Regions from separate parts of the Homo sapiens genome. Here regions 1, 3 and 4 are each linked to region 2. The links come from fine-mapping of genetic effects on gene expression. A gene starts in region 2. Each other region holds a variant in brackets. All regions are shown on one strand. Distances are between the middles of the regions.

Evidence for each region.
Region 1: its variant is fine-mapped to the expression of TTLL7 in whole blood (TOPMed, PIP above 0.99).
Region 3: its variant is fine-mapped to the expression of TTLL7 in whole blood (TOPMed, PIP above 0.99).
Region 4: its variant is fine-mapped to the expression of TTLL7 in liver (GTEx, PIP 0.98).

The regions. Positions count from the first base shown.
Region 1 is chr1:83,928,492-83,936,602 of GRCh38, forward strand. TTLL7 (tubulin tyrosine ligase like 7) reads right to left here. Exons shown (of 21, transcript NM_024686.6): 9 at 5,117-5,275; 10 at 645-739. Among named protein-coding and RNA genes, the nearest start is that of TTLL7-IT1, 52 kb to the right of the region's middle. The variant G/GA (reference allele first, on the strand shown) is at 4,450.
Region 2 is chr1:83,995,272-84,003,382 of GRCh38, forward strand. It overlaps TTLL7 (tubulin tyrosine ligase like 7), which reads right to left and starts at 3,861. Exons shown (of 21, transcript NM_024686.6): 1 at 3,660-3,861. LOC124904205 (a long non-coding RNA gene) reads left to right here and starts at 4,017. Exons shown (of 2, transcript XR_007066195.1): 1 at 4,017-4,435; 2 at 8,005-8,111. RefSeq lists silencers at 3,521-3,650, 3,661-3,760.
Region 3 is chr1:84,119,736-84,127,846 of GRCh38, forward strand. It overlaps a transcript of PRKACB not described here. Among named protein-coding and RNA genes, the nearest start is that of PRKACB, 20 kb to the right of the region's middle. RefSeq lists an enhancer at 3,180-3,329. The variant A/C (reference allele first, on the strand shown) is at 3,695.
Region 4 is chr1:83,856,312-83,864,402 of GRCh38, forward strand. It overlaps LINC01725 (long intergenic non-protein coding RNA 1725), which reads right to left and starts at 4,685. Exons shown (of 3, transcript NR_119375.1): 1 at 4,508-4,685. It overlaps LOC101927560 (a long non-coding RNA gene), which reads right to left and starts at 4,235. Exons shown (of 3, transcript NR_119374.1): 1 at 4,097-4,235. RefSeq lists silencers at 4,364-4,543, 4,644-4,773. The variant C/T (reference allele first, on the strand shown) is at 3,135.

The DNA of each region.
Region 1 (8,111 bases), 67 kb before region 2:
AAATATTTGAATCCCATGATCATGTACACTGCAACCAGCCCTACATCCCTACCAGCCAAGTTTTTTCTCAAATTTTACTTGCCTCTCTAAATGGAAAAGTTAACTCTCACTAAACAACTGCCTCTCTTTTTTATTTACATGGGGAGCATGATGTAATGGGAAGACCTCTGGAGAGAAAGTTAGGAAATCCATGTTTGAGTTTTTTTTTTAATTTCCTGAATGAACTCTTTGTGCTTTAGTTTCTTCTTATAAGATGAGGAAGATAATCTAGAGGGTCTCTTAAAGTATTTACCAATTTAATCTTGTACTCTATATTAAATAATTATACCTACATTGAAATTTAACCTCATTTACTGCAGGTACAGACTGTTGCCTGGGAAGCAGGAAAAGCAGTATACAGGAGTAGGGGGGACAGATTTTTTTTTTTAACTATATGAGTTTAAAGAATAGATGGAATCAAGAAATGAAAAATACAAAATGGATGGAACCAAGAAATGAAAAATACAAAATGGATGGAATCAAGAAATGAAAATTATAAAATATAAAAATAAATATACTATTCTGAAAAGCCAATTTTATGTACAAATGATTAATCTATGTCAAATGTGGAGATAAATGTCCAAAAGATAGAGAGAGTATTTTACCTTATGTTTAGTAGCTTCAACGCATTTAGCAGCACTCCCCTTTTTACATCATAGTCTATTTTCTGATCAGTTCCAAAGCTTGGGGCTCGGTTAATCTGAAATTTACAAAGAAGACAATATTGGAAGGTAAATAAATATTCAATACATATTTGTTAATCCAATGTGGGATCTCTAGCCAGTAGAACAACTCTACATTAAACCTCAAAGCTTTACATGGCAGATGGCCCAGTTGTTATTGCCACATCTCCATTCTGCATCACCCTAGGTCAACAAATTGCAAGGGATTGACTATTAGCACCATCTCCTTCCCAAGGCTGCCTTAGTTTAGGAGCTTTACTGTCAGTATAGGCTGGCCTCTCCCTCCATTCCACTCTCTCCACTACCCCATGCAATTTAGGTTTTTTAAGTTTAGGAAAGTTAAAAGTGATTTAGCCTAACAAAAAGGAAATAGTGATATTCATCATGTTACCAACACAGTAATAATTATATCAACACAATAATAATTATATACATCTATATATTTAAAATATGGAAACTATCAGTGCTCCCTTTTCACTGCCTCAGATCTTCAGGAATTCATTAAGATGAAAAATAAAAGAGCTGGAGTGTTTGTTTTTGTCTTTGTTGAGTCTTGTTACTATTGTCATTGTTATAAAAATATAACTGGAATAGCTGATGTTTAAGAAAATTTCTTAATCAGTTAAATCGGTTGGTTAGAACACTGCTGAGTTCAACACAACAGCTTAGCTTCTTGACCACCAACTAATCCCTTAGGCTATCTCAAACATATGTATATATGCTACTAGTCACAGTTATACACATCTGTCACCACAAGAGACAAAACAATTGAAAGCATTCATTCCACAACTTGCACCTGAAGAAATATCACATTATAATCAAGAAATTACCCAGGAATACAACATCTTTAATTAGAAATGTGTCACAGGTTCACCGCAGAAAAATAAGTAAAACTAAGGAAAACAAATAACAAAAGATACCTGTAATCCCACTACTTAACACTTAGTGTCGTGTTAACCGTTTGGTAGATAGTATTCCAGATATTTTCTATGTATACATATTTAAAATATTCATTTTACCTTCCAAATGCATGTCTATACTAACCATACTTTATTTTACATTCCAAGCTTTTCTCTTAATAATGTATCATGAAAATCTTTCATCATGCCATCATTTTGATGGATGCATGGTACTCCTTTTATAGAGATATGCCATGTTGTATTTTGATTCCTTTGTTGATTTCTGATTTAAAAGGTGGTGGACACATTCCTTTATTTGTGATATAGTCTCAAGGAGAAGGAAATAGCTTGAAAACGGCAATAACATCCATTTATTATAGGTCAATTTGAGAAAGGGAGTTTATTAATCTATTACGAAAGCTCTAAGCATTTCCCTTTGCAAGTGCAAAGAAAGGGTAAAGTAATATATTTTATGGGAGAAAAGTTTCAACCATACTGATTCAAATTTCTGGAGTTTATAATACAACTAATGACAGTGTTGCCACTATATGTGACATGGTTATAAACTAAACCAGACATTAAAGAACTGATGAGTCAGTGGTCCATTGGCATGTTATCTGTCTTTGTAGAATTCCTCAGAGTTTCCATTCCAAATTTCAGTGTGGAATTGTGCCAGGCATATCCCTCCTCCAGGATGGTACTGAGGTCTTGGTATAAAGCCATCTCAGATCTCAATCTCTCTCTCTCTCCTTACCTATTTCAAATTTTTCCCTCTACTATAAGATAAATTGGTCTATGAAGAGGTATACCCACACAAGATAAACTATTAATAATATGTGGAAAGGCAGGAAACCTTTTTCAATTTAGGTTTTCATTCAGGGTTGTTCTTGTTTTTTTTTTTTTAAGTTTTATGAGAAAGGTAAAGAAAAAAAATAAAAGAAAAACCACAAATGGCTGACAGAAGAAACTAAAAATTAGTGTTCCACCCAGCCAAAATTCTCCTCTATAATGAGATGATTTATTTGGTTCTCATTTCCTACCCCAATTCTAAAACAGACAAAACATAGATGTTAAAGTCTCAAAATTCAACAGCTTGTAAATGCATTAAGAAATGAAAATTATTATAAAATATATATTAGTAAACACTATTTTCAACTGTCCTAAAAAGTTTTATCAAAACAATCACTTTTTCCACAAATTAAAGTATCCATAATAGCTTCTGTGCTCCTAAGTTAGTGCTGTTCCCTCTGCACCACAGCCTTTCCCCACCCCTACTTTATCTCTCTCAGCCCCCAGCCCCTACCCCAACCTTCTGTAGCCCTACAATCTTTGCTCAGGTGTTTCTTCTGTAAAGATTCTTTTTAACTCTCCGATACACACAGGTACACAGAGATATTAATCATGCTATTGTTTTTGTCATTTCCCTTTTACCTACTAGTACTTATAACTATTACCATAAAATGCACATCTGAATAATGGCTACACCAGGGCAAGTATTCTGTCTTCTTATATTCCCACCACCTAACACAATGACTATAACTTAGTAGGTTCCTGTTTAATTTAAGAGTACTTAAAACTATTGGTGGTATCTTCATACTCCACCAAAGTTCCATGTTTTTCCTAAAAAAATGTTTTCTACTTATGAAAATTTGTGCAATTCTGCCACTAGCAATCAGTCCCTGAAATTATTCTGGTTAACTAAAAGTTATCACATACCCAGAAGCACCTTCTACCTTATTCCACTTGATGGCGCCAAAAGGTTTTTAACAATGTATATTAGCCCCACCAAAATATCAGCAGGGAGCAAAACACAAGGCAAGATTGAAGATTCTTTTAACTGTTTTAATATAACAAATGTTCATTATTCACAGCTCTTGGTTATTGTGGAGTGTTTTAATGGTTCTGATTGATCTAGAAACAACGAAGGAAAGAGTAAAGAATGAAGAAACATTCATGCAAACAATGGTTATTTTGAATCTTTTAAAATCCAGAATTCAACCATTCAGTCAATTCTGATTTAGCAAGCTAATGGAAAGCTCTAGTGAAGCAAATGTTTCTTCTAAAAAGGTAACTAAGATATCTATAAAGTCATTATTTCCTACTATCCTCCTTATGCATGTGCCTTCACTTTTTCCCCACTCCATCAATGACAAAAGAAAAGTAACAGGGGCAGAAGACAATATAGCTAAGAACAGGAAAGGACTGCTGCAGAAAAAGTAAGAAATCTAAAGAAAACTTCAGGCCTTAGCAAGATGAAGGGTCCATAGTGCATAGTCAAGTGTTTTCATATCCAAGGAACGGAGGAAGCAAAGGATAAGTAAAACTTCCTCACATTTATCTTATCTCTAAGACCCAGGCTGGAGCAAAATATGAACATCCAACAGAGAGAACTGCATTTCCTTGGAGACACAATACATGTTACTGTTTAAAGTAGATGTGACCACACATAGGCGCGCGCACACACACACACACACACAATCTTTGGCCCTCAAATTAGAAAAGTGTCATTTCTTTGAAATGTATTTTTAGTATCATCTCACCTACCACTCATTTAATTTGCTTATGCAAACCTTGATATTACACACACAACTTCTAACTTATAAATCACTAACAAAAAGAGAGATACTTGATTTAAAATGAAAGGTAGTGGTTGACTACATCTTCTACAGCTGTATGTTCCTGATTACGTTTCCAAAACATGATATTTAAGCGGCCACGAGAAGGTGTGTAAACCCAGATCAAGGAGCTTAAAGGGAACTGCTGGATGGGATCTTCTGGACCACGTGACTTCTAAGGTTTCTTCTGGGTAATATAAATATAACTAGCAG[G/GA]AAAAAATATAAAAATTGTCAACAGAGATAATTTTTACTTTCTCCTTTTTACTATTCTGTATGTGTTACATGACCTTTTATCATCCAAGAAAAATAATGGTAACTCTCACCCTACCAGGGACTGGCAGCAAACCTGAAGGCATACAGTTGACAGTCTCCCTGAGGGAAGCCCCAGGTATATAACATGGCCTTAAAGGAGAAATTTACCACCTGGGGTATCGAATACTGAATACTGATTAATGAACCAATTGGAGCCTCTCGGAGAGTCTGAAGGGGAGACACACTGAAGGCAAGATCCTGAAGCCCAGGCACTCACAGAGAGGAGAGACACTATCCAGAACTCATGATGTGGTAGAAGCCAGGAGGCTGAGAAAATAGTAGAGCAAGTAAGCAACAAAACAGTAAAAGCACCTCCACACTTCAATCCCAAATACCTGGCCTAGAAACTCAGCTGATGCTAATTTGGGAAAAGTAATATCAAACACTGTGATTCATTCTTAGAACTGTTCTAGTCCCTGAATTTTTATCCTCTTCTTCCCACTTATTCCATTCAGCCTTCATTCTGGACAGTTAATGGGACAACTGTGTTAAGTACACATTTTTAAAGCATTTATTTTAATACGTAAGGACAGTGATAACTCTTCTTTTTTCTTAAAGAATGCCTTACCTCCAGAAGCCATGGCTTTAGTTTTCTATCCAACAAAATATCAAATCCCAGGACTTCAAAGCAGACACTTTCGCTTCCTGGAGGTTGACCAGGTCTACACATTCGATAGGCATGCAGGACATGAGGTTCTGCTACAATCAGGGTCTTTACCACCAATTCCTATAAGATTGTGATAAAAGAAGTGAAAATGCCTTTGTATCTCATTTCATATGTGCAAATATAACCGGGGCCCACAAACTGGCAGCCTGGCCAAGTTTACAAAGCTCTGTGGCATCTAGCCCCTGCCACTGCTCTGACTTCATTCTTCACTCTTACCCCTGCCCACTGCACTCCTCACACTTGCTTTGGGTTCCTCAAGTAAGTGACACTTCTTCCTATCTTAAGTCCTTTGAGTTAGCTGTTCCCTCTTGTGGAATAATCTTTCCCCTATATTCCCAAGTCTGGCTCTTAGACATTCAGAGAGGCCTTCCTAACCCTCAAGTTAAAAGCAGCCACCCTTCATTTCTTACTGCACCACTACACACAGCATATAACAAGCTGATATTTTTCTTTTTACATTAGAGAAGGGTCCTTGTCTGACTTATTTATAACACCATTCCCAGTGCCTACAATAGTAGCTGGCATTTAGTAGATATTCAAGTAAATCTACTACTTTGTAAACAAGTAAAACAAAGCTGATAAATGTGGTTTCTATATGTTAAAAACAAGTAAGGTAGGAGCATACGCTAGCCCCATCCAGAAGAGATGAGGGTGACAGGAAGGAAAAATTCCAAGGAGAGTAAATTATTTCACAAACACCAGTAGAGAAACTCCACTTAGATAAAGGCTGAAAGGGCTGGAAGACAAAATCTTGAGAGTTGAGTTTCTTTATTCAGTGATGATTTTGTAGTGTATAAGTTTTATCTGAGAAGACTGTTACCAATTAAAAGACTGGCTCTCAATATTTTCTGAGAGAAAACACATAATACTACTAGGGTGAGTTATTAACCCTAATTTTTAAAAAGTTGTTTTACTGAAGTTTCAGAATAAGCTGTAGGAGAAAAGCTGTCTCATTTATTTTTGCTCAGAAGACACTGTCATTTTAACTCCCTCTCTACAGGTATAGGCAATAGAAAAAGACAGTTAAGAACCTGGCTCTAAAATAGGCTTCTTATGTTTCTTCCTGGCTTTGTAACTTGTTAGCTGTGCAACCTCAGTCATGTTGCTTAAACTTTGTGTGTCTCATTTTTCCTAAATATAATCTGCAAAAGGTTAATGTAAGAAAAAAATGAGATTCCATGTAAGACTCTTAGCATAGAGCCCAGAGTACTATTATTGTTACTGTTACTCTATCATTCCTCTAGAATTCCACCTTATATATCAGGTTAGACTCAAATATTCCACTACCTGGTGGAACAATATTTATTCTATGGGTGATAAAAGGGAAGACAGAAGTTAACCTCACTGTTACCCAGAACCACAATCCAGTTTATATTTGGGAATAAGTATCAGATGTCCCATGAGAGGCTGTTTTCAAAAAATTTTGTTCAAGGTTAACAAATTCATGACAGCACCATAGCATATAAAATAAAAGACAAAAAGCCACTTTATATAAATCTTCACCAATATTACTGAAACCACTTGAGAGCAGAAAAAGTTAAAACTTTGACTGATAAGTATCTGTATGGAACAGTACGGGCTGAGAGAGGGGGTGGGGACTGATTATTAATCAACAGACCCTGAATTACAAATCTGTGTTTTTGCTACGTAGAAAATAACCTGCTTTTAGATTGTAAAGGCAAGTTTTCAGTAGATGTGAAAATGAGGAGTCATATAAACAAACACAAATGAAATTCCACTACTGTTTTTGAGAATTTACAACATAATATCACTGCTTTAAAACGTGATTTGTAGATTTATACCTTAGGTATACAAAAAGCAGTAAGGATAGTTTTTTTTTTAATGATTATACTCATTTTTAATCTCCATGGCTTGATTTTCTACTGATTTTTATTATTGACCAGAACAAAAGTACAGAGCTCTGTTCTTCACGGAAGGTATTGATGAATGCTGCTTTTCATATATTGATAGTTACCTTTTAGAGAAATTGCCCGGGTTATTAAAAATAAGTTATAAATTAAATTCAGGGAATTTGTAAACTAAGACATCAAGATAAAAATTTACTGCATAATTGCTTTCTCCACCTCGTCCTGTCATTCTCTTTTTATATTATCCCATTGATTCACCTTAAACAGTTATCTATATAAAGTATACCAATTCTTAATAAAGACAGCCAATTTTCAAATAATTACATAAATGCAGACAGGTGTTTGACAAGATAATTAAAATAAAAGTACTTGAAAAGCTAGATTTATTAACTGATTGTTTATAGATGATTAATATGCATTCTAACTAACATAGCCAAGAATGATGCAAAATTTACCCACCTATAGACAAGACCATGAAATGTGTCAGAGATTAATAGGCCCACATTGGCTATGTTTGGGTCATATCTAAAAATTATACTTAACGTTCTAACAGAAAGTTAATTTCCATATCCTCTCATTAGTATTAGTCTTGCTCGTTTACCTTCTCTTAATTCAATTGTGTAGGAAAAAACACCACTTAAAACCAATACACGTAAAGCTAATGACCCTCATTATTCTCCCTGATTCTCTCTATACATGCCTCACCAAAGCAGCCCAACAGGTTTTCACAGACATGTCCCCAAAGAGCCAAATCCAAATGAGGGTTACAAATGTGTACAGAAAAAAAAGAATGCCAGAGGGTATATAAAACTTTCTTGGTCCCACTGAGCAATAGACCAATGCATTGGAATTATCATCAGATGGAAGATAGTATGATCTTCCATCAATGAACTATGGTCCAAAATTAATGAATTTTACCATTTTGATGCTTCTGACTCACTATGATAGTAAACTGTCATTAGAATGGTTTTTGGAATGTCCACAAAATTAGCCTTGAGAAAATAATTGCATAAACAAATAAATGCAGC
Region 2 (8,111 bases):
TGGGTCCCTATCCAAATCTCATGTTGAATTTTATTCCCCAGTGTTGGAGGTGGGGGTGGGAAATATTTGAATCCTGGGGACATATCCATCATGAATGGCTTAATGCATCCCTTTGGCGGTAAGTGAGCGCTCACTCTGAGTTCTCACAAGATCTGGTCACTTAAAGTGTGTGGCACCACCCCCTCACTCTCTCTCTTGCTCCTGCTTTCTGCTATGTGACGTGCCTGCTCCCCCTTCCCCTTCAACATGATTGGACGCTTCCTAAGGCCTCCCCAGAAGCAGATGCTGCCATGCTTCCAGTACAGCCTGCAGAACTGTGAGCCAATTACACCTCTTTTCTTATAAATTACCTAGTTTCAGGTATTTATTTATAGCAATGCAAGAATGGCCTAATATAAGAACTCAGTAGTTTCAAAACTTGCTTAAAATAGTGCAACTTCAAGACCTCATACCCTTTAACCCAGAAATTTTATTTCTGAGACTCTATGCAAAGGAACTAATATTCAAAATACAAAAAAAAGCATACGCACAAAGATGTTCATCACAGTGCTATTATTATCATCAATAATTGTTTATTATGATGTCATCAATAGTGACAATGAGGAACAATTAGGCAATGATAATACATCTACCAAATGGAAAATTATGTAGTCATTTTTAAGCCTGCTATTAGGCATTTTAAACCTAGTATTAAGCCAGTTGTAATTAAATGAAAACTAAAGTTATAGAATTTTAAATTTAAAAATAATATAAAAGTAATATAGATACCATAATTAAAACTACGCATGAAAAAAGTGGAAAGAAACATGTCAAAAATGAATAGTGATTGTCTTTAGTTGGTCAAATTATGAGGGTGTTTTTTTCCTTTTTATATTCTTAAACTTTCCAAATTGTTCATAATTATCTAATGGGGGCCGGAGCTAAAAGGCAAATTCCTTTGGAAGAGGAAAAATTGTACTTGCACAGAAAACTTTTTCTCAGTTTAGTTGACAATCCTTTTAGTACCCAGGAAACAGACCATTTCCTGGAAGGGGACTCGGGGCAACAGATATGGAGAATGTAAGAAAGAGAAATGATTAACAGATCAGAAACAGATCTCACTGTCTGACATTCAAGTTTCTTCATGATCTTTCACCATGTATCCAAACAGTAGATGAGCACTTCTTAGCTGAACCTTTATGTGGCTTTCTCTTTGCCTATCAGAATCCTTCCAGTCTCTGAGACTGATTTAATTCACTTCAACCCATGAAGACTTTCCTGATCCTCTGATCATCCAAGGCTCTACTATTTCTCTTTTCTCTTAAGGTACCGCTATAGCAGTAGGTCTGCACCACCCTTTTCTGGTATTAAGCCAATTCTAAGTTATTTGTTAATTACTCACGTGTAAGTAAAATTTCCCCTGCTAGACTTTAAGTTCCTTGAAGTGGGGAATTTAGATGGTTTGCAGACTGTAGTCATTGGACAGAGGAGAGAGAGCAGTTCTAAAGCCAAGTTGGTATTATATTCATACTCTCAGTGATGTCATCTAAGTAAAATGTGCTGTCTCTGTTTTAAAATGTTGCTGCTGACCATCCATCACCAGGACATGCACTTTCCTTTTTTTTTTTTTAACAGCAGTGGTATTGTATTTTTGCTTATTCATTCATGCCAGTTCTGCTGTCCCCCTTAGGATTAAACAGATTGGATTACAAGATGCCTTGCCAAGGTTCAGGATATAGGTTATAGCCATGTAAAGAACAAAATGAAATGACTTTTAGGAATCAAACTCAAGACTCTTCACAAGACCCCACTTCTCATACTCTTGTTTGAACAACAAATATAAATTTGTGCCTCCATTTTATGTCCTTATTTAGGCAGTGGACTTTATCAATACCCCCGTTAACTTGAAAAAGAATTCTCCAATGCAAATGGTTCAATACTTTAGAAATGACATACTAAGATGACTCTGTTCCTGCCTACCATCAATACTATGTGAGTATTTAGAGATAATGAGCATCTGTACTATAGCAACCTGCCTCTTGAGACATAAACAAGAGATGCATTTCTTAAGAAAAAATCTGTAAGTCGCTAATGAAAGCAAGTCAAAGGACCCATCAACGGGCGAAGAAAGACCTAGCATCCATTATTTTTACAGAAGGAGCATAGAAGGTCAATATAATTGTTGACTCTTAACGGCAGGGTAACAACAAACTAATTCAGTTTCCCACTATATAAGAACTACATTTTACTACAACACTCATATTTCTAAACTGACTAAGAGTCAAGGCTTGTCCAAATTCCATGGCTTACTGAGTGGTCTTGAACCTTCTCTGAATTTTGTTCCTTAGTCTGTAAAATGGAGTTATCACCTGTTATGCAATATCACAGAGTTGTAATGAATCAAGTAACATTATCTTAGTATGGGTTCACCTGTCACCCTATTGTGGGGTGCAGTTCAGTCGCACACCTCATGAACTAAGTAACTATTATTACTGTAAATGTCTCCCTAACATTTAAGACAGAAAAAGATTTCCAGAGTTCTTCTTACGTTTTTAATCGACTTCTCCAACACTTGAGCATCCACCAAATATCACTGCCAAAAATGTGCTGAACATCTCCTGTTATGACCTCACTCTCCTATGTAGTGTTGTTCACATATTTTTTGCCATAAGCTTTCTAAGAAAATAGATTATTTTTCACATGATTCAAAGCATCTTTCTTTCATATTGAAGGAGCAATAATTCCTTATGCAGAAAGTTTACAGGTTGTTGTTGCTGTTGTTTGAGATTACTCCTCAATTAATTAATTCTATGTTTAATATCTAATAGAGCATATATATGTACACTTGGACACACTCCATTAATACAGTGGAAAATCCATGGACTATAGAGTCAGGAAAACCTATATTCGAATTCCTGTTCTGTGACCTTGAGAATGTAATTTAACTTCCCTGCTCCTCAGTTTCCACATTTGGTTCTGGATTATGATGATTTAATAAAATACGATATATAAAAGTAAGTGCCTAGGCTATGAAGGTATTATTTCCTACCTCTCCTAAATCTTTTCTTTCTATGCCAGGATCAATCAAACCCACCCAGAATACAAGGCAACTTTCATAGGGTATCTTTTACATCAGTCGAGGGAACGCTGCGATGTGATATAAGTGGATGATGGCATGAGTCAGGCATCCAACAGAGCAAGATGTGGAGAAAGTGAGAGGTACCTACAAGGGCCCTAGACTTCACTCGCATGTGCGAAAAGGGCATTTTGATACCCTTTCAAGAATGCCCCGCATACTCGCGGAGGCTTATACCACGATGTGGGAAAACGACGGAATTACAGAATAAACCAGCAGGGAGCCTCCTCGTTCACCCAACCCGACCCCGCCCGCCCGAGTCTCCCATCTGGAGCCTAAAAACTGAGCTGAGATCACAGCAACTGACCCCGTCCCCTCCGCCCTCTCCCTCCCCCATTCTGCCCAAACCTCTCAGGGCACGAATGGTGCTGAATCATTTGCACGAACGCAGCAGCTCCCCGTTCCGCGGCTCCCAGCGGGGACGGTGTCCCCAGAGCAGTGACAGTCCGGGGATGGGGGCCCGGAAAGAGGGCCAGGGCGGAGCCTTTGGGGACGTGGGGACATGGAAGGGGGTCGGGGGAGGATGGCGGCAGCAGGTACTCACCCGGGTGAGGAAAGCCCAGCCCGGGTCCTCGCGTCCCCGCTGCAAGCGGTCCCCCAGGTGCTCCCGCGCCTCGCAGCTTCCCCGTGGGCGGCCGCCCCGACTCGGCAGCCTGCACTGGTGGTCCGGTGCTCTCCTCCGCCCGCCCACCGCCCGTGGCAGCCACGGCTCGGGACTCCGGTGCTCGACGCGGAGTGCCTGGAACAGCTGTCGCTGCCCAAGCGGGTGGCGGCTACCGACGGGCCAGACCATTCGCCTGCTGCGGCCGGGGGTGCACGACGTGCCGAGAGGCGCGGGCGCCGGGGGCGGCGACGGTTGGGAGGAACAAAGGACTCGGGGAATCCTCTGCCCCCTCGGAGTCAGGAGGTCCTGGGGACAGGAGGGATCAACGGAGGGGCCGCTGCCTCTTCTGGGGGTTTACTGAAGACACTGCTCGAGCTTTCCCGGGCCACACACACCCCCCCCCCGTTTGCCTTGGTCCCGCTCGGGGCTCCTTTAGAACGCGGCAAACAGAGGACTTAGCAACGCGAGCGCCTGGGCGGCGCCCCTCCTCAGAGATGCGAGAGGCGCTGGCCTGAGCGCCTCCGGCCACCTCCTTCTACCTCCGGGCCCTAGGCGCCCGATCCACCTGCCTATCTGACCACAGACATCTTCCCACAAAACAGTGGAGCTTTTTGAATCTTTGAAGAGAGTCTTCAGATCTTTTATCTAAGCATCTTTGTGAAGCAAAGAATAAACGGGTATCTGAGGCCAGCTCGAAAGTTAGGAAATAAAATCAGGTGGGGCCCCATCCCGTAGATGCTGAGGGACAGCTCTGACCTAGAGTTCCTGCTAAGCAAATGTTGAACCACGGCAGTTGTAAAAAAATGTAGATTTAGGAAGCCATTTCGAGATAAAGATTTACAGAAGATTGTTGCAGAAATTAAAGAATATTCGAGGTTCATTGTTCACCATTTTAGAGTTGCGTGTCTTGAAAACGGGAAGGCAATCATGTCTTCTCATAAAATGAATTGTATAGAACTGGAAGAAGTCCTAACACATGAATTCCTTAGACTTTTGTGGTCCCTGCTTCTGTCACGCTGGGTTCACACAGGTTCATTTCAGAGCATGGTGAAGATCAGGACAAGTGTACAGTTTTCCCTGTAGAAAAAAAGAAAAGATAGAACAGAATTGGCAACTACCTATAAAATGTGATTAAAGGTAGGAAAAAAAAAGGCCCTCCAAGTGCATCCCAAAAAATATAAAATTTCACAATTTAAAGTTTTGTCCTTCGTTGAGTAAATCAACATAAATTCAGCACTTTCTATAGACCACTGTGCTGAGAATAGTCTCATTTTCATTTCTTCATTTATTCTTCTAAAAACTCCTGTGAGATTGGTAACCTGCAATAGACCTCCATACAGCCTTGCCAGCATTGGGAACTGATCTGGTCAGTGAGGGCATCTTCTCATAAAGGACACTGGTGAGAAACTGGGCTCAGGGTTTGTCGTGCTGGGTTAGTCTCACGATCATAAGCGGCAGAGCAGACATTGCCACCTGGAGTTTTTGACTTGTTCCTTTCCCCTAGAATGCCTCTGAGAACGATATACATTAAACCGTGTCACATCTGTGATTGCAACTTGAATGTGAGTCTGTTTATCCTTCCTTTGTGAGAAGGGGTTTTAGAATGGAGAGGGGGCAGTTAGGTGTCCAGGGTAGGCATCACCCTGAGGCAAGAAGAGTGATCAGAAAGAAGAAGCTGGACTTCACCCAGAACTAGCCGAACATCAGCGTCACAATACACTGTCAAGGTCACATGAGGTTGAAGAGGAATTCTCCACTGCCTTCTTGTTAATCATCTTTACATCATTATTTTCACTGTATTACACTTTACACTATGCATGCACTATTACTACATTACATGTTATCATTCTTCCATTCCTAGGAAGGGGCAAGAATTTTTCAATAAACCTATTATCATGGGTCCTCATATACCTTATCAAAAAAAATGTTAAGTAACAGAGGTATTAGCAACACTTAACGTCACCTCAAGAAAGCTTTTTGAGAAATCAGGAATAAAATTAAATTGTTTCTGTATGATATGATATTGTTACTATGTTAATGGTTGTTGTAAAGATTCACACGTCAGCAGCAGCAAAACAGAAATCCCCAAAGTTGCATGTTGCCGAGGAGCAGGAGCATTGGGTCCCCAGTGGCCAGACTGGCCTCAGGCTCAGAAATGTGTGATTCTTCTCTCCATGTGCAGTTGTTTCACTTTCAAAGGCAACAACAGGAACAGAACACATGTAGATGAGGCGTCTTCTGAGTTAGTGCTTTATGTCAGATGTTAGATGATAGGGATATAGAAAGGAATTTAGAGCCTTATGATTTGTGGTGCGGATGGGCCAGTGACATCTGCAGCAATCTGTTTGTATAAGTTGACACTCTTGGAACATATGTTTCTGAATGAAGAAAGGGGAATTTTTGTGCTGGCAGCCTTGGGAAATTGTCAAAAGAAGTGGAAGGAATGGTGTGATGCCTGCATTCCCTGCTTTCCTCAGAGTCCTCAAATGGTTTTGAGCCTGCTGTGTAAAGAACTTAGGGCCAGAAGCTAAATAATCATCTTCCCCACAAATGACTTTGTGAAATTTAAGTTCTAAGAAGTACTACTTTAGGCCTGGTGACAAATGACAGCATGGAGCTGGCAAGAGAGCCATTCTCTCACCCAACCTGAAATAGACCTCCATACAGCCTTGCCAGCGATAGGAACTGATCTGCCCAGTGAGGGTATATTCTCATAAAGAACACTGGTGGCCGATACAAGGTCAAGGTAACTTAAGTAGGAGCCCAGAGCAGTAAAGCAGGAGTGGTATTATTCCTGAGCACCTGAAAGACACTGCTGAGGATTTCTTGCTGCAAATGATGGAGACTAGGGAGGCACTGCAGGGTCAAGGGAATCATTATTAAACTCAAGATGATTGTTAAACCTTATTTAGGCACCGATATTAACATGAACTCATTTGTATTCACAAACTAGCATGATCTGGGAACATTCCAATATTACTTTTTAAATGATACTAATAAGAAGAGAGCTAGAGAGAAAGAGAATACTTAATGCCTTTGATAAAACTGCATTGTGAGCCACAAAATGTTAAATCTTGATGCAAGATATTCCAGTACCTGCTATGTGTTGGTCTCTTACCAAAGCATGTGGTGACATTAACCTCTCAACTTATTCTTGCTGAAGAGAGTGCTTAATTGTGTTGTTTCTCTTTGCGTTTAGCTAACACTTATTAAATCATTAGTGTTTGAGTAACTAGTATTATGTGAAGTAAGTACTATTATCACTCCCATTTTATAAATGAAGAAACTGAGAATTACAAGGGTGTATTAATTTGTCAAAGGTAGCACAATTGGAAAGAGACAAAGCTGGATTTCAAACACTAACCAATACATGACGTGAATATCAGCATACTTTTACTGTCTCCTGCTATAGAGAACATGTACATTGCATGTTTCTCTGCAGCAGAATCTATTTTTTATTTATTATTAAAAACCTGTTTTCAACTCTCATTTCTAAGAGGAAATGAGTCATTTCCCACAGAAGATTTAAACATTGGATACCCTTTTCTAGGTTTCTGTGCTCAGAAAAGAGACCCTGAATTTAAGAATAAGAAGTGAACCTTGTAACATAAACTTGACCAGTGATGCCTAAAATTCTTGCTGCAAAATTATGATTGCAGGAACTCCTGCATGAGACTCTGGAAACTAGATTCCTATGAAGTTCTGTAGGTGGTTCTAATGTACAGCCAAGTTTGACCAGACCATACTGGACAAAAACAATATGGGGCCTACAAAAAATAACATTCAGGCTTCTAGACTTAACCCCTTAATCCCACCTTTTATTAAGAAGGAAATAAGAGGCTGTTATTTAAAACCTACATTATGTAATTTTACATTTATCATATAAAATGTATTTATTAAAGGGTTTAGAATTTTTCTCAGTGTTGTTTTTGTCATTCTCAACAAATCTTCAAAAAGCCCCAAATTTAAAATGATACTCATTCAAAATTACTTTTATATATAGATATTGGACTTTAAGCCCTTTTTAATTATTATACGGCATTTTATATAAGACAAAAAGTCATATTGCATTAGACTTTTGTTTTAATTTTTGGAGAATTTACATGACAGTAAGTCATTTCATCCAAGAAGATAATAAGCTTTTCTAGTTTATGTTTTTTCATTTCCCAATCATATTTTTATAATTTTGCTTATATATGTTCTGTAACTTTCTTACCAAAGTTGTACCAAATTTTTTATAGCACTTGTATTCTGAATGAAATGTTCTTTCCATTTCCTTTTGTAGGGTCTTCTACCAGAACAGAGAGATGATGCTTTCTGTAATTTATTTTGTATTCATTCAGTGCACCAAATTATCTTATTACTTGTTTTTTCATGAGTCCCTTGGATTTT
Region 3 (8,111 bases), 120 kb after region 2:
CACATACATAGGCACACATATAGCATAGCAAGGTGGCATTTATGAGTAGCTGCTATAGTCCTTGTTCTGTTTGAAAGTTGCTATAAATTTCCCACTGCAGCATATAAGTGTAGAAGGGATTCTTTTTCAGGGTAGTAGTTTAGACCATCATTCTTGAATCATTGAGACCTTGGTAGTGTTTCCTATATTGGAATACTGAAGTCTTCTCTGTTTTTATACTCAATATGCAAATTACAAGAAAGTACCCCACCTCCATCTATAACACAACTTTATGTCTCAGTAATAACCAGGATTAATCACTCAAACAGAAGTAACTTTCCTTTTCGGCCTGTATTTTTCAGTGAAATGTGACCAGAATGCCCAGCTGGCACTCTAAACTTCTGGTTCAAGGGATTAATTGTTACAGGTACTCCCCATACTTGAAGAGTACTTCTAAATTCATATTTCTTGAAGAGTACTTCCAAGGGTATTAAAATGTCTCAACTGTTAAAGAGTCCAAAGTTACAGAGACAAGAAGTAGAAAATTTTCAAATGGGTAACTTATCATACTATAGTTCATTAATTTTGACATACATACTTTTGTCTCACATTTTAGTGTATTCGAAATTAGGATGCTTCCTAAAATGATGACATCAGTCAGGCAATTCTTGTGATGTGCTTGTTATTGTCTATACATGCACAAACATGAAAATGCGTATCAGCAGGTTGGAAGAAAATATAGGAGATGGTAGTAGAGCGCCTCAAAAAATACTGTATCAATATTTTTGATATAAAGAACAATAATTGTGTAAAAACACACAATAATGACTGTGCATCAAAAAATAGTCTGGAAGAGTCAGACTATGAATATGAAAGCATTTTAGGAATTTCTTAACAAGTTTAAAATTTTTTTCACTTCATATGTTTACAAGAGTGATATTAAAAAGTTATGTCTAAATAAATCAAAAATAGTTCTCTCTTAATAGGGAAAAAATTTATAACTGACAAAGTATCTCATAGTTTAATTGCTGTACATTTTTCTTTTTTTTCTTAGTGGTACATGATATAATGGTGATTTTTATAATTGATAGTCATAGATTCAGTGAAATAGGGTGGTGATATCTACCACTCCCACCTCCACCTTCTGGTTCCCAGATACTTGTTTTTTATGGTTGAAGAAACACCAGGTAATGGTCCCTGAGAAGTTTCTTTTGTGTATGAGCTACAAGATTTCAAGACTTTTCAAATCTTGATCTTAGGTAATTTTTGAAGTAACAATAATCACTAATAGTTTGTCTTTAATGTTCTTGTACTAGCTATCACGAGTTTTATGTATCTTTGTTATTGTTACTATTTTGTGTCAATTGCCAAGAGACTTAAACATCTTTTCTAACATGTTCATATTCTCTTGATTAATTACATTATGAAACAACATGCCTATTCATTATTTTTATTTGGAATTTTTCCTTTTTTCATGATTTAGTGTATTTGTTACAAAAAATAACTTGAATTCACTTTTCTATATAGGAACATTTTTATTGATTTTATGTCTCCTCTTTATAATCTCTTTCATATTTCATTATGTTTCTTCTAAATTTATCTTGTTTTTTTAATACATAAATTTGAAGATGAAAAAGGAGGTACTCCTCATATACATTCATGTATTATACATATATATTCATATACATATATATGTACACATTCAAATCACAAGTCTGTCATTTTTAACTTTTTAATTGAAAAATCCCCAAACTTCTTGCCAATCGTAGCTAAAACTGTACATTACCCCTAAACTTTCCCTTATTCAGATCTCTAAAATGCCTGGTGCCACTCCATTAGCACCTGACATAATGGAAAGTGTGAAGAAGGGGAAGTTGGAGAGAAAAGAGACAGCAATCTCAACCAATTGCTATTAAAATATCTTACTTTTGCAAGTCTTACAAAAGCATGTGTCCTTGTGAACACAATGCTAGAATCTCTCCCAGGGTATTAGAAGGGTTGCCTGCACTTGAGAGGTCCTGAAATTTAATCTCTGTTAGCTTCACAGTAAACCTGCTGTGGCCCTCAGATTTCAGTTCTCTTTGTGAGAGAAGCCCTCTCCTCTGGCTGGCAATTTATGATTCCCTTGCACACACTCTCTTTTCTGGGGTCTATAGGACATAAATGTATTTTCCCTGCTATTCCAAGTTGAGCCCCCTCTCAACATAATTCTTTTCACTCTGCCACTGAGCAGAGGTGGTTTTATCTACCATTTAGTACCTTTACATTTTGTACATTTGGTGAGTCCCCCCAAAACAGTCCCTAACTCTTATAAATCCTAGCAGATAGGGTACATGTTAAGTCTCTGAGTGGTTTCCTTGAAGCCCCTCAGTTGATTTGAGGTAAGGGTGACCTCCTGCCCTGAATGTGTTGCATACCTCATAACTGCTCCAAAACAATTCTCTCCAGCACTCTTCAGCCTCTCCCTCTGATGTAAATTGGCTAATGTTGGCAGATCTGGCTTTAAAATCTAGTTTCTGTGGGTGGTTTTATTTTTCATTTGGGAAGGCTGGTCACCTGATAGAAAAATAAAAATAACCATGTTAAGACAAATTGGTGTTTTAGCTGTCTGCTTAATTGCTTTTGGCCTTCAGTTTTCTCTTTGAAATCTTATACTCAATTGAGCAAATGTTTCTCAGTTGAGGGTTTATGTGTTCTAAGTCCTGTGATAGGTACCAGGAATGCAGAGATAAACAGATCCATTGTAAACAGTCAAATGTAATAGAAGAATCATATGGCTAATCTGCCATATATTAAGTCATAGTGTCTAAATTGCATTAAACCAGCTCAATATAAGAACAACTGTTTTCTTAAAAGTTATATGAGATTTTATAAAAGATTTTACCTTGCCATTATATAGTAATTATGATTGAACTTACCAAATTAAATGTAATGTGACGTTTACTAGTATTTTTCCATTAAATTGTTAGTGAATTAAAAGGACGTTTTGGAATTATATGGGGGATCTTTGGAAGACTTAATTTTTTCATGGGTTGTATAAATAGATTTATGAGAGGGAAAATGGATATTAGTTTCTGATATGGTAGTTTATGTGAGAATTTTATAGTTTGATTTGTATAAATAAAATAATGTTATTGCATATTTCTGGTACATTACACTTTTATTTGTATAATAACCTAAACTTGTGTTTATCTTATATTGCTAAAATTTAAGGTAATGACAATAAAAGATTTTTCTGGTATGTATGTGAAGCCTAAATGGCCCCATTCTGCCACCTTCTGGCTGACTCCGTAGCTTATAATATTGTGAGGTAAGTGTCATCTAACCGTTCTGCCATGGTTGGCAGCAGACCATATATTTGGGGCCTGGGTGATTTAAAACAGGGTCAGTTTAAGCAATAATGTAGTTCTAGTGCCTCAGGCTCACCTTTATTTCATAGTTCTAAAATGTGTTAGAATTTATTGGAATAGAATACCACATAGTGATGTATGAGATTGTTTCTCCCAGGGTATGGAGTTGTAGTTAATTTTGACTTTTCTGCAATACTAAAGTTTCTTCAGATATTACTTGATAATTAAAACTGTATCAACATGGTAAGCTATTTATCAGAATCATCATAAGAAAGTTACTTGGAGAGTGATATAGAAATGAAAGTTACTGAAATCAGCACCAATTCCTTATAGAGAAACTAATGGGTTCAGTAATCACTTACTAG[A/C]GTTCTAAAATAAAAGGAGAAACCATATGTACAACAACAAAGTACTAACAAAATCTTAGTAATTTAAACCTCTAGTTTTGTGACACTTCTATATATTGCCATTTATTAAAAAAAAGAATTTGGGAAGGCTTAAAACTTTTGGAAATGTAATTCATTTAAAATTGGTTTGATAAACTTTTTGGAGAGGGATAGAGAAAATAAAGTAGAACGCTATAAAATGTTGCAATTTGTGACCTTTTGCAGCACACTTAACCTCTTTGTCACTCTGGAAAATGGGATAATAATATCCAATATAAAGGTAGATTGTTGTGAGGAATAAATGCTTTATTTACTTCATGTGAAACACTTAGAATGATATCTGACATATAATAAGTTAGCATTGTTATAGTCAATCTTACAACATTTAGAATATGTTACATAGTCTAATATAAATGGATTCCAAAATATTCTAGGCAGTAAGCTTTGTATTTTCTTAACATTTTTACACTCAATAATATTAAATTAAAAGAGAGAAATTGAAGACTGGAAATGCATAGCTCCCTAAAGTAGTGTAGAAATATATGTGATATATTGGGGCCTAATAAAGGGCCTTTATTTCTGTCTGTGACTCATCTTTTAGATACCTAAAGCTATCTCATAAAAAAGCTATGGTATCTTGAAGAAATTAATCAATTTAAAAACATTTATTGAGTGTATACTGTGTGATCATCAGTGTGTTAGATTCTGGTAAGAAATGATATGAGAAACTCACAAAAAGAAGTATAAACATGCAATTACTACAATGTGGTCAGTACAGTAACGTGGGTGTTAATATATTTTAGGAACTAGAAGAGAAGAAATAACATTGAACTACACTTTGATTAACAAGTAGGAATTAGCTAGGAGAAAGTCGTCTTACATAAATGGAACTTCTATGCATGATTTTTGACTACTGGTTTACCTGAAGTTTCTTACATTTTGTATTAGTATAACTTTACAGCCTTTCATATCCAGAATGCTTTTACACACATTATCTGAAGAGTGAGGTTTTCAGGTTATTATCTGAATGGTGAAAATTGGGTTTCTATCGTAGTAATTATGGGTGAAGGGGAAATATGTGTTTTTTAAAACTGGACATTTGTAATGTTGCTGTCTGAGCCTATAGCCCCCTACCTTCACCTCTTTATGCTGTGGAGTCAGGCAACTACACTAGCAGTCAAATGCCTGAGGTTCGCAGTTTGCCCTATCAGTGCTCTTGAGGGTTCTCATGTGAGTGAAAGGAGTGACTATCCCATGCCCTGCACCATTTCTGTGGTGGTAGTGGTGGTTGAGGGAAGAAGTTTCATCTTCACATTTCAGGTATTTAGAAAGCCCATCTGGAGATTTAGTTATGGGACTACCTGGCTATAGTCTTGGCTAGGGCGTTAGTAGATCAATGAAATTTTCTCATCAACACGAAGGGCTCTAAGTGTTAAAGGGAGACAGTGCCCACATCAACCATGACTAGGAGTTTCACATGTCCATATTTCATACATTTTAGTACTCTGGAAATAGAATCCCACTTTCCTCATCCCCATCACCTTATTACATTTAAGTCTTGTGTTAATTTTCTATTATTGCTATAACTAAATAGTGGCTTAAATAGTGGCTTAAAATAACACCCATTTATTATCTCACTGTTCTGTAGGTCAGAATTCTGGCAGGCTCTTATCTGGAGTTTCTGGGGAAGAATTTACTTCCAAGCTGATCCATACTTCTGGCAGAATCCAGTACCTTATGGTTATAGGACTAGGGTCTCTGTTTCTTGGTTGACTGTCATCTAGGGGGCTCCCTTAGCTCTTAGAGCCCTCTCTCTGGTGCTTCTACATAGGCTGTAATATCTCAGAGCCAGTAATGGTGTGCTGATCATTCTCACACGTGAAATTTCATGACATGTTGCCATGGCTCTCTTCTGCTCCTAGCTGGACAAGGTTCTCTGCTTTCAAGAGCAAATTTTTTTAGATCGGGCCCACCTAAGTAATCCAGAGGAATCTATTTAGTCACTAATTAGTAGCCTTAATTACATCCGCAGAGTCCAGTTAGGCATATATTGAAACATATCCACAGTTTCCAGGCAGTAGATGGAATTAATAGGGGGAGCATTCTGCTTATCAGAAATCCATCGGGAGTTTAGAAAGAAGAGGAAGTACAGAGAGCCTACGACCTTTGGTATGCATTTCAAGACTCAGTCACAATTAAGAGGAGGATCTACTTAATAGTTAAAGAAAATTTAAACCATCTTTCTTCCCTAATACAACCAGAAGTATAAACTAGTTGTTAACAGATATGCATATGATTAAAATAAAATTTAGAAGGCAGTGATGTGTTTCAGACTCATATTCAGCTATCTTTTTGAAATCTCCATTTGTATGTCTAGTAAGCATCTCAAATTTAATATGTCCAATAGAATTTTTTATTACAACACCCCTCCAGCCCCTTCCTTCAGAAATGGGATAGTTCCCTTGACCCCTTCGCGGGACTCACAAAGGGATTGACTTGTTTACTCAGCTCGCAGCTCTCATCCCCTCACGGGACGGGGAGCATGCAGGTGAGTGGGTACAGGGACTGGGACAAGTGCTTCTGGGCATCCGCAGGAGTAGAATCCTGTGCAGTCCAGTGGAAGCTTCCTGGGGGGTGGGGGGGAGGGGAGGGGAACCTGTGACCTCCGGAGTCCTAGAGGGCATGTGTTACAGTGTGCTCATTTAGCTTTGCCATCCACAGACAACTTAAGTGTTTAACAGATCAGTGGAGGGTCAGGGTGACAGCCTTTTGCACCCGCCCTCTTGGTACCCGAGTACTTGTCTGGCATCCAGGAAGAATAAGGTCATATGAATGAATTGAAGGGTGGTGAATGTGGAGGATTTTACTGAGCAGTAGAAGTGGCTCTTGGCAGGATGGGGAGCTGGAAAGCGGATGGAGTGGGAAGGTGGTCTTCTCCTGGAGTTCAGCCGTCCCCTGTGGAACTCTTCTGCGAAGTCCTGCTGTCAAGCTGTTCCTCTGAAGTCAAGCTGCTTCTCTTTGATGTCCTTCTGCTGCCTCTCTTCTCTCCTCTGCCACTCTGCCACTCTGCTGGTGGGGCTTGGGGTTTTTATGGGTACAGGATGGGGAGGTGGGGACAGCCAACATGGTTTTGGAAAAGGCAAATTTGGGCAGGAAAACAGGAATGCATGTTCTCACTTTGGACTGCAGGTCCAGGCTTGAGAGTGTGGCCCTCGTTGGGGTCTGCCCTCTTCTACCCAGTATTTCCCCGCCTCCTGTCTATATCACTTCCTCACCCTTCCCCAGCTTAATAATAACTGGCATCACTACTTATTCACATGCTCAAGCCAAAAAAAGTAGGAATTATCTTTTATTACTTTTATTAATTTTCTGGGTTCAATGAATCATCAAATCTCCTTGTTTTTCAAAAATATATATGAAATCTGTCTGTTTTTCTTTCCCACCACAACCTCAGTTCAGGTATCCATCATCTCTTGCCTGGACTTTTGCAGTAGTCCTTAACTATTTTTCATGTTTCCATTCTTACCTTCCACCTACACAGAAGATTCCTGAATCCATTCTCTTCCTAGTAGTCATACTCTTTTTGCCTTATTCCTCTATCTGGGTCTTTAATTCCCAGCTTCATCTGCATGGCATACTCTTCTTCCATCTTTCTGTAAGTTCCTCTTTTCTTTGTACTTCAGGTCTTGACAGCTGTGTATGTTACCTGAAACACATTATAGAAAATGTACATTTGTACATGAGATGAAGATAAATAGGGAGGAAGACCAAAGAGTAGAATTATCTGCTAAGTTGAACAATTACAAAATAGTAATCTATCAAATAAAATCTTAAAATAGCTGTATGTAATTTAAGCTTATCATTAATAAGCATCCTAATTTTCCCCTGCTCCTTAAAATTACCTATACGACATTGAGCTAAAGCATTTCTTTGTTGGAAAGAAAAAAAATTGAAAACAAAAATGCTTGTGTATTCAGCTCTGCAGGAGGGATATTCAACTGTATCAGTATTAAAAATCTATCTTTCCAGAAAAGAAGTATGAAGTTAATTTACCTGCTGGTATTACTAATAGTTTAATTAGGTAAACAGCATGAGTTCAAAACAATTAATCATCTGCCATAAAAGTCTAATTATTCCTGGCACATTACTGAGCTATTTTTACTGTGTGAGATAAATATGAATTTTGCGGGTTTTTTTTCTTTTTCTTATATTTGATAGCTATAGACAATAAATTTAGTTCTTATTTTCTGTTGGACTCTGACTTTTGAAATGTTATTTTGCTAACACATTCAATTGACTATATTTACTGTTTTCCTAACTTGATTACTACTTTATTTTACTTCTAGTGAATATATTTTATGTTTTGAAGAAAATATAATATTTCCTATACTTAAATCAT
Region 4 (8,091 bases), 140 kb before region 2:
CCACAAGCTCTTGCCTATAAAGACTTCTAAAAATAAATATTTTAACAACAAATCATTTATGTGCATTTTTTCTGAATTTTTCTTAATTTACAATCACATAAAAATAACTTTACTGAAAGCACAGAACTGTTGCATTTATTTGTAGCCATTACCTTTTTTTTTCTTTTTCTTCCCCTATCCTGGTAAATGCTTCCCACTCCCAAGGCTGAAAAGTACCTGAAGATCTGTAAATCATGACTTTAATAAGTATAATAAATCATTTGTTACAGTTATTTTTAAGACTTGACCTTATCGAGTTTTAACTGATATGTTTTGCAGGTACTCCTGCTGTTATATGGAAGCAATATAAGTTTAATATTTAGTTACTGCAACCTAAGGACACTTTGTTTTACTGAAGTATGAAAACTGTGAGTGGAAACGGTGTCCCTAAAATAATTAAGGCAAGACTTTAAGCCACAAAATACAGCAAAGTTTCTAATTAAGGTTAATCTTTGAAAGTTCAAAATTTAGTGATGAAATCTTCAGGCTTCCATTTTATGGTCAAATGTCAGTTGTTTATATTCAAACAACTGCCATTACATTTAACAGTACTAAAATCTTAAAGAAAATTTCCAGACATACCAGTTCTCTTAAAGTTGGATATATACTGTCTTAAAACAAAATTTAAAATCCACCATTTACACATTTAAAACTATTGCAATTTTTCCTAACCTTATTAGCACAGATGGAGAAACTGTATCCTGTTGAAAGCCATTTGTGACAGGAAAAGCAATGTCAATTTTTAGACACTCATAAATGTGCACCATAAGTGAAATCATAATGAAGTAACATATTGTGCATATGAAATACCTAAAGACAAAAAGATGATCTCTATAGAATGCATCATCAACTGCCATAACCCTAACTAATCACTGCACTTCATCCATCAAGTTCAGAAGCAGATGAAGTAATAGATTCCTAAGTAACACATGTACATGACCCTACTGCTTGCAATGTAAAATGGCCACTTCAATATATTTTGTTACGTGTGCTTATGTTGCTCTCTCTTGGTGGAAAAGCTGTACTGTTCAAATTGATTACCACTGATTTTTTAAAACTTTTTTAAAGGCTTTCATGTTAAGAGAACCAGTTTGTTTTGATACAGTATTTTCAATGCCATTTGCACAAATTAAAATGCTAATTGCTAACCTTAGAACAGCTAGAACTACTTTAAATAATTCCGAGTTTCTAAATTGATGTGAATTAAAAGCTGGTTGGAGCACACACTAAAATGTTTTCATTTATGGACTCCCAGGAGATTTCATCTTGTAATAAACAAAGTACCAAACAAAATGAAGAGCAAGAGGGTACTAACTCTGTAAGAATTCAGCTGTGAAAACCTGATTCACTGAAAGAAGGTGAAAATATTGGTAGAGTCTCCTAAGTGCTCCATGCATTTATATATTTGCAGAAACAAACTATGATTCATTTTTTTAAAAGTTACTGGATAAACATAAGTGTTAGTAGAAGTCCAAACATGTAACAGAAAAAAAAAATTTTGTGATAACCAATTTTAAGATGAGAACCAGTGGCATGCTGTAGCCGGCTGGTGCCGGTTTGTGAGAGCTGACTGTGCACATATCTTCCCAACTCCATGTTTAGTGGCATAATTTTGACAGTTGAAATCTGTCATGGTGGGAGTTTTTACATTACAGAAATTTTCAGTCATTGTAAGTAAGGGTTTTGTCTTTCTTTTTGTACTTGTTTCTTTTTTTTAATTTTATTTTTTGGAGGACTGGTTGTTATTTACCAGCATACCACTAGAAATGCCAAAGAACATGCCAAAAAGAAAATCTTTCTCCCTTTGGCTAATGACATTTAAAAATGTTTCTTAATTGCAAAGGATATAAATGCCAAATAAAGGGCTTCTCAGAGGAAGTCCCTCCTTTTAGTACACTGATAAATCAAACAATATATAGCATTTTATGGTCAGAATAGAAACTATTCACAATGACTATTTCCTCTCTTGCAAATCAAGAGTCTTTTCAGAGAGTGGCACGGCAGTTGAATTTCTAACCAGTTCTCTACAGTAGTCAAAAACAGCTGAGTAACCTTTGGAAAATTGTTCACTTATCAAAACACTACACTCAACCAAAGTGAAAAAATGTTTTGTATGCTGCTGTATTTTAAATATGAGACTGGTAACATAGATGTTCAATAGCATGAATGAAGATGTCAAAAATGGAAGCAAAAAGTCTGGCAAAGACTTGAAAATGATGCTTCATAAGCCAAGCCCCTCGTGTGCTCACTGGGTTACCCTCACCTTTAGAAGAAGGCAAGACTTGGGAACGTTTTAGGGTCTTCCTTTCACTTGGGAGATTTACCCATAAGTTCAGAGAAACAACTTCAGAAAACAACTGTTAGGGCATTTAAAATCTTAGAGAAGCACCTCCTATCTAGAAAACATGAGAGTTTAACTTCTGAAGCATCACGGTCTTCTGCAGCTCACATATGTGAACAGCATGGAAATAAACTCGTAATGCACGGTCTGGTAGCTTGCGCTTGCATTAGGTACAGCGCACTGTGTGGGGAGGATTATCAAGGGAAGGTTTGATTGACTATTACTCCAGTTCTGTCTATGCCCCCAGGACCCACTTGAAGACATTATACTTCAAGGTGACTATTCTGTTGAAGAGAACATAATATTAATTAATTAATGATTACATATAAATAATGGAAAAAGACTAATTGAGCGATAGTTCAGCTAAATAGCCCCAACAATGTCACCAGCAGTGACGGTACTGCTGAGCAACTGATAAACAGTACCAGCCATGGAGGGCAGAAACAGAGCCTTTTAAATTCATCTTTTCATGTATTTCCTTATAATGAAAGCAAATAACAAAAGCATGTTTTAGGCAAAAAGGTGTTAAAGAAAATATAATCATTGAACAGCAAGTGTTATTTGTTTACACAAACACTAAAACCTCAGAATAAAAAGATAGCTCATGATGTAGGATTGTTTCCAATTATTGGCAGAAGGACAGAAAGATCATCATATCAGTAACAAAGAACAATCATGCTGCAAAGAACAATCAATGGAAATGCAATTTTCAATGTTACAAATCATTAAGCTGAAGATATATGAGTATCAGTTT[C/T]AAATATAACATGTAATCAGAATCTGCTGTAAAACCAGATAAAAAATAACTTTGAAAAACTGTACTAAATCAACGAGTTATTTATTTACTAAAATAAAAATCTGACTTCTGGGTACAGTCATTCTGAAGGCTCTATCGTAGGGAATGAAAATGAGACTTCATCTCTTAACTTTAGAAATACAAAAATCTTCATAACAATCTTATGGGGACTATAATTATCATCCCCATTTCACAGATAAGCAAAATGAGAAACAAGGTATTAAGCAACTTATACAAGGTCAGCCCATTAGTAAGTGGTGCAGCTGGGATGTAAACTCTGGCAGTTTAGCTCCTGAGTCCAGCCTCTTAGCGACTACATTACACACCTCTCATCTGGATAAAACATAAAACTGTAGAAAATCCAGGAGTCCTTTCTAAAGAGAGAGGTTTTAGCTGGGTTTTGGAGGTACGTTGTCTTTTTTTTTCTTTTTGCCTCTTTCTACTATATGCCCTTATTTATAACCTAAAATATTAGATATGAAATTCTGCCTTCTGTTAAGCAAATGACCCATTATGCCTGATGTCCATAAGGGCCATTCCATCTGGAAACCAGAGCTAGTCCCTTAATTGTTCCATGCTAATAGTTAATAGAACATTTGATAGAATTCCTTACATATACCTTTGTTATTTAGCCTTATGACATTTCATTAGAATTATTTAGATGACTTTTTCCTGTACTAGAATTTGAACTCATGGAAAGTGAGGATGTTATTAATAATTTGTTTCTCTGTTATCTAGCATAGCAATTGACACACAGCTGACACTCAACATACATTTGTTAAATAGAAATTACATGCCACAAAGAAAGAAAGCCTGAAAGAAACAACCTTAGCCTGCATATTAAACGCACAGATAATTGCCTGTTTTACACTAAATGAACTTTTTAACAACAATGAAAAAAATTTTTGGACAACTTTCCTGACCTCTATCCTTTATTCCTCATGTAAAATAGGTCAAAAAGTCTGAACGATCCTTTCTCAGACATGTCTCCTGAATCTGGATCATCACCATGCCACCCGGGGTAGGCTCTGGTCCTAACCGGCCTGGACTCTGAGCAACGGTGTCCTGACTGCTCTCCTGACAACTGTCACTCCCAGGCCCGGCCACTCGCCGTCTCAGCGCCCCCTCGCGGCCCTTCTCTACCCACCTCGGGACTTCCCAGGCCTCCTGGCTGCGCCGCAGACCCTCCCCGTCCCAGATCCCGCCAGGGCCCACTCGGGCTCCAGCCGCTGCCTGGGACAGCCAAAGGCCGGCCCGGGCGGTTCTTCCCCAGGTGGTCCGGGGCGTCCCGGGCCGCACTGGCCTGGCCCATGGGCCCCGAAGAAGGCGCTCACCCAAGGACCACTGTCCGAGCGGCTTCCCCCGGCCCGGCCTGGTGCCGCGTCCCCACCAGCCCGGGGTGGCAGGTTCTACTCGGGAAGCCTGTTTTATGTCTTCTTTCACGCCCATATCACACCGACAAGGGTGAAGCTGTGGAACTTATACCTCGGCTGGGCCCCGCCGCCAACTCCTAGGGCACGGGAACTGCGCACAGGCCGGGGTTCCGCGAGGGGCGGAGCTTCCCGCTCTGCCCTCGGGCAGGTGAGCCGGAGCCTGGCACGTGGGCCTGGGTGTCCTGACAGCCCTGGCCCCCGCCGCCTCTGTACCAGGGAGAGCGCCTGGAAGGCGCCGCTGCCTCTCTCTCCCTACGTGCCCACCTGCCTCTAGGAACTGGTGAGTTACTTCAGTTCTATGTGAGTCTCCAGTGCCACAATTTAGTGTGTACACCAAACGGTGTTATTGAATAGATGAAGATGATTACCACCTGGTAATGAGTTTCCTTAGTCCCGTTCTTATAGAACCTGAAACTCAACGCTAACCACCCCCCCCCCCCGACTTAGAATCACAAACTAGATAGAATCTTTCTGACAATCGGGTGAGTTGGGTTTAATATGCAATGAGGAAATTATACTTTACTCCAAAAACTAGTGCTTGTTATTTTCCTCACAACAAAACTCTCAGATAGACAAAGTTGGCAACCCTATTCCACTCAGCTAGTCGATAAAAGAACCAGGATGGAACTATGATGGGAACCCACATCTTCAGCTTCCTATTGCAGTGTATGTTCTATTACATATGAAAAAGAGACAATAAAGTAGAGGATAAGTAGGACGCTAAAGAAGTAAGGAAAGGAGAGAATCCAGTGTTTGTAAGGAGCTTTGTTTTATTTTCCCAAAGCTTGGAGATTACTTGGCAAAGTGTGATGGTGCTACACAGCCCGTAAGAAATTTGTAATCACCCATCTAACAAGTACCTAGGCTGGATCTGCAAACTGCGTGGAAATTTCTAGCACGTGTGGGAAGAAGCATGATCAACATTTCTTAGACCATTTCAGGTCCGGAAGTGGCCCTCTTGCAGTTTAGCAGGACATATATTCTCAAGAGATTCTGAGTAGCCACAGAACTTACAGAAGTTGTCATTATTTACCTACTGCTCAGAAAAACAGGACACTGTCTGTGGGCCAATTTGCTAAGAAAAAAATTTAAATAATATGTAAATAAATGTAAATAATGTAGAAGCACAATCTGCCTTTGCTTTTTCTTATAAATATAAGAAAATATTTTCATTAAAATAACCAAAAAATAGACAAGATTTACCCAGCACCTTTAGAATGAAAGTAACGTGGCAGTGCTTCACTGGGAAAAAGTGAAGCTGAATGAGATGAAATTTAGAAACTGAGAAATGGTCAGGAAAAAACAAGAATTCAAAAAGCAAATAGAAGTATTATTTGACTGAAAAACCTGAGGCTAAAATATGAAATCAAGCTAATTTCTGAGGTATCTACTTATTCTTTGTTTCAAGACAAGTCTGACTCCAGTTTGGGGAGAGTCAAACAGAATGGAATTAGCTAAATTTGCTTATTTTTAAAACTCCCCTCAATTTCTCCCCCAAATTTGAGTTTCCCTTTGTACTTCTCCCATTATGATGTAGAAGATTTACTAAACAAATATCAATTTGGACTAAAATGATATTAGGTTTTGATGATCTACCTATTTTTAGCCTAAGGACTAAGTGGTTTTCTGAATTCACATTTTCATCGTTTTAATGAAAATGAGGCAATATGCTGAAATGGTATTTTCTTAGATTGTATTAAGGTTTATATACCTAGATTTTTCACATACACTGTGTCATATACTTTTCCTCTAAATCCAATATATTATGAACACACAGGTAACGTTTTTACTGCTAACAGCATGCTGTAGGTTTAAAAAAATTATTGTTTCTTGACCTTTTACAAGTTATTCTAACACTAACAGCAGCATAGCTATAACAGGACAGAACTTGACTAAATATATTAATATAGAGTTTTATTATCCTTGATAATTTTTCTCACTGCAGTGTCTAGTTAATACTTAAAGGGTTTTTGTATGTTTGCACCCATTCTTAGAGAGGACAAGAGTTTGAATTTGCATATTCTCACCGTATGTTTCTATTACAATATCAAAGATTGAAGGCTGCCTTAATAAAACATTTCAAAAACAATGAGAGTCCATTGCTGTGCAATAGTCAAAACACTACTCAGTCTAAAAAATCTTAGTATTTTTGATAACCGTATAAAATAGCACAATTTAGGTCACTAAGTGCCATCAGCATATACTCCCTAAATATACCAAATAGTGGTATATTTATTGCATTTTTAAAGAAGGAGGTTAATTTAGCAGTATTTCACATGGAACCATACAGAATGGAGTATGATAAAATTTCTTAAGGCCTAACATGTTGCTTAAAGAAAACTTAGACACAGAAAAAATATCTGACTTGATAAATGCTGTCTCTCACAAATATGACAAACTCTGAATAAATTCCAGCTTTGAAGGAAGGAAGCCAGCCACAAACAGGCCTTTTTGTTTTGTGTAAGAAGATACTTGCAGATGGCCAGCAAGTGTTTCTAGATATATCCTGTTATTATGCAAAGTTCTCATCTGCTGATGGATGACTTTAGACTATTAAAGATGAACTTTTATCATATATGACCCAATAAATAATTAATATCTATTCATAAAGGCTTGGATCACATTCTGACCACACTCTCAAGCATTTTGCATTACTTCACATGTCGTGATTATGTTGCAAATATCTAATATAATGCATGTTTATCATTAGGGTTATTTACCTCTGGCCATCCTTCCTGGCCTCAAGCCATCCCTCTTGAAACCCTGGTTCAAATATTCCCCTGGAAATGACCAAATTCTCAAGTGACAAGTGCAAGTAAATTTCTTGCACCAGATTTGTCAGTGTTCATATTTATACCACCAGTCTATATTTGATAAATATATGATTAAATGCTTTGATTACTTTATTAGTGAATGAATTTGTGTATTTTGGTGTTTTCCAAAGTGTGCTCAATAGAAGTCTAGTCCCGGGAGATGCGCTGCAATAAAAGATACCATGGTGAAATTAGTTTGGGAACTGATGCATGTTGCTGTCCCTTTCTGGAAAATGTCAGTGCATCTGAGGATACTAAAGACTCTTGGAAGTACTGAAAGTAGAGAAACACCTTCCAATTTGTATACCGTTTCCCAATTTGCCTGACCATGGCGATGGGTATCGTTGTCACTATGCTGTGTACATACCTGATGAATAACCATTAAAAGATAACTCTCTTCCAGTTAAAGATTATGTTATGCTCTACAAAAGAACCAAATGCTTATTTTGTTTTTAAGGTACTATATAGTTTTCTAACACTTGAAATTATTCCAAGATTATTTTTATAATTTAAAAAAGATTTTCATTCAATTAAAAATGAAATTATATATATAATTAAAATTATTTGATAAAATAGGGAGATAGCAAACTACCCACATTGGCCTCATCTTTAGGAGTCATTGAAAGAAATCAATTCAACTTTCAAAGCCTTTATAGAATATTTTAACTTTAT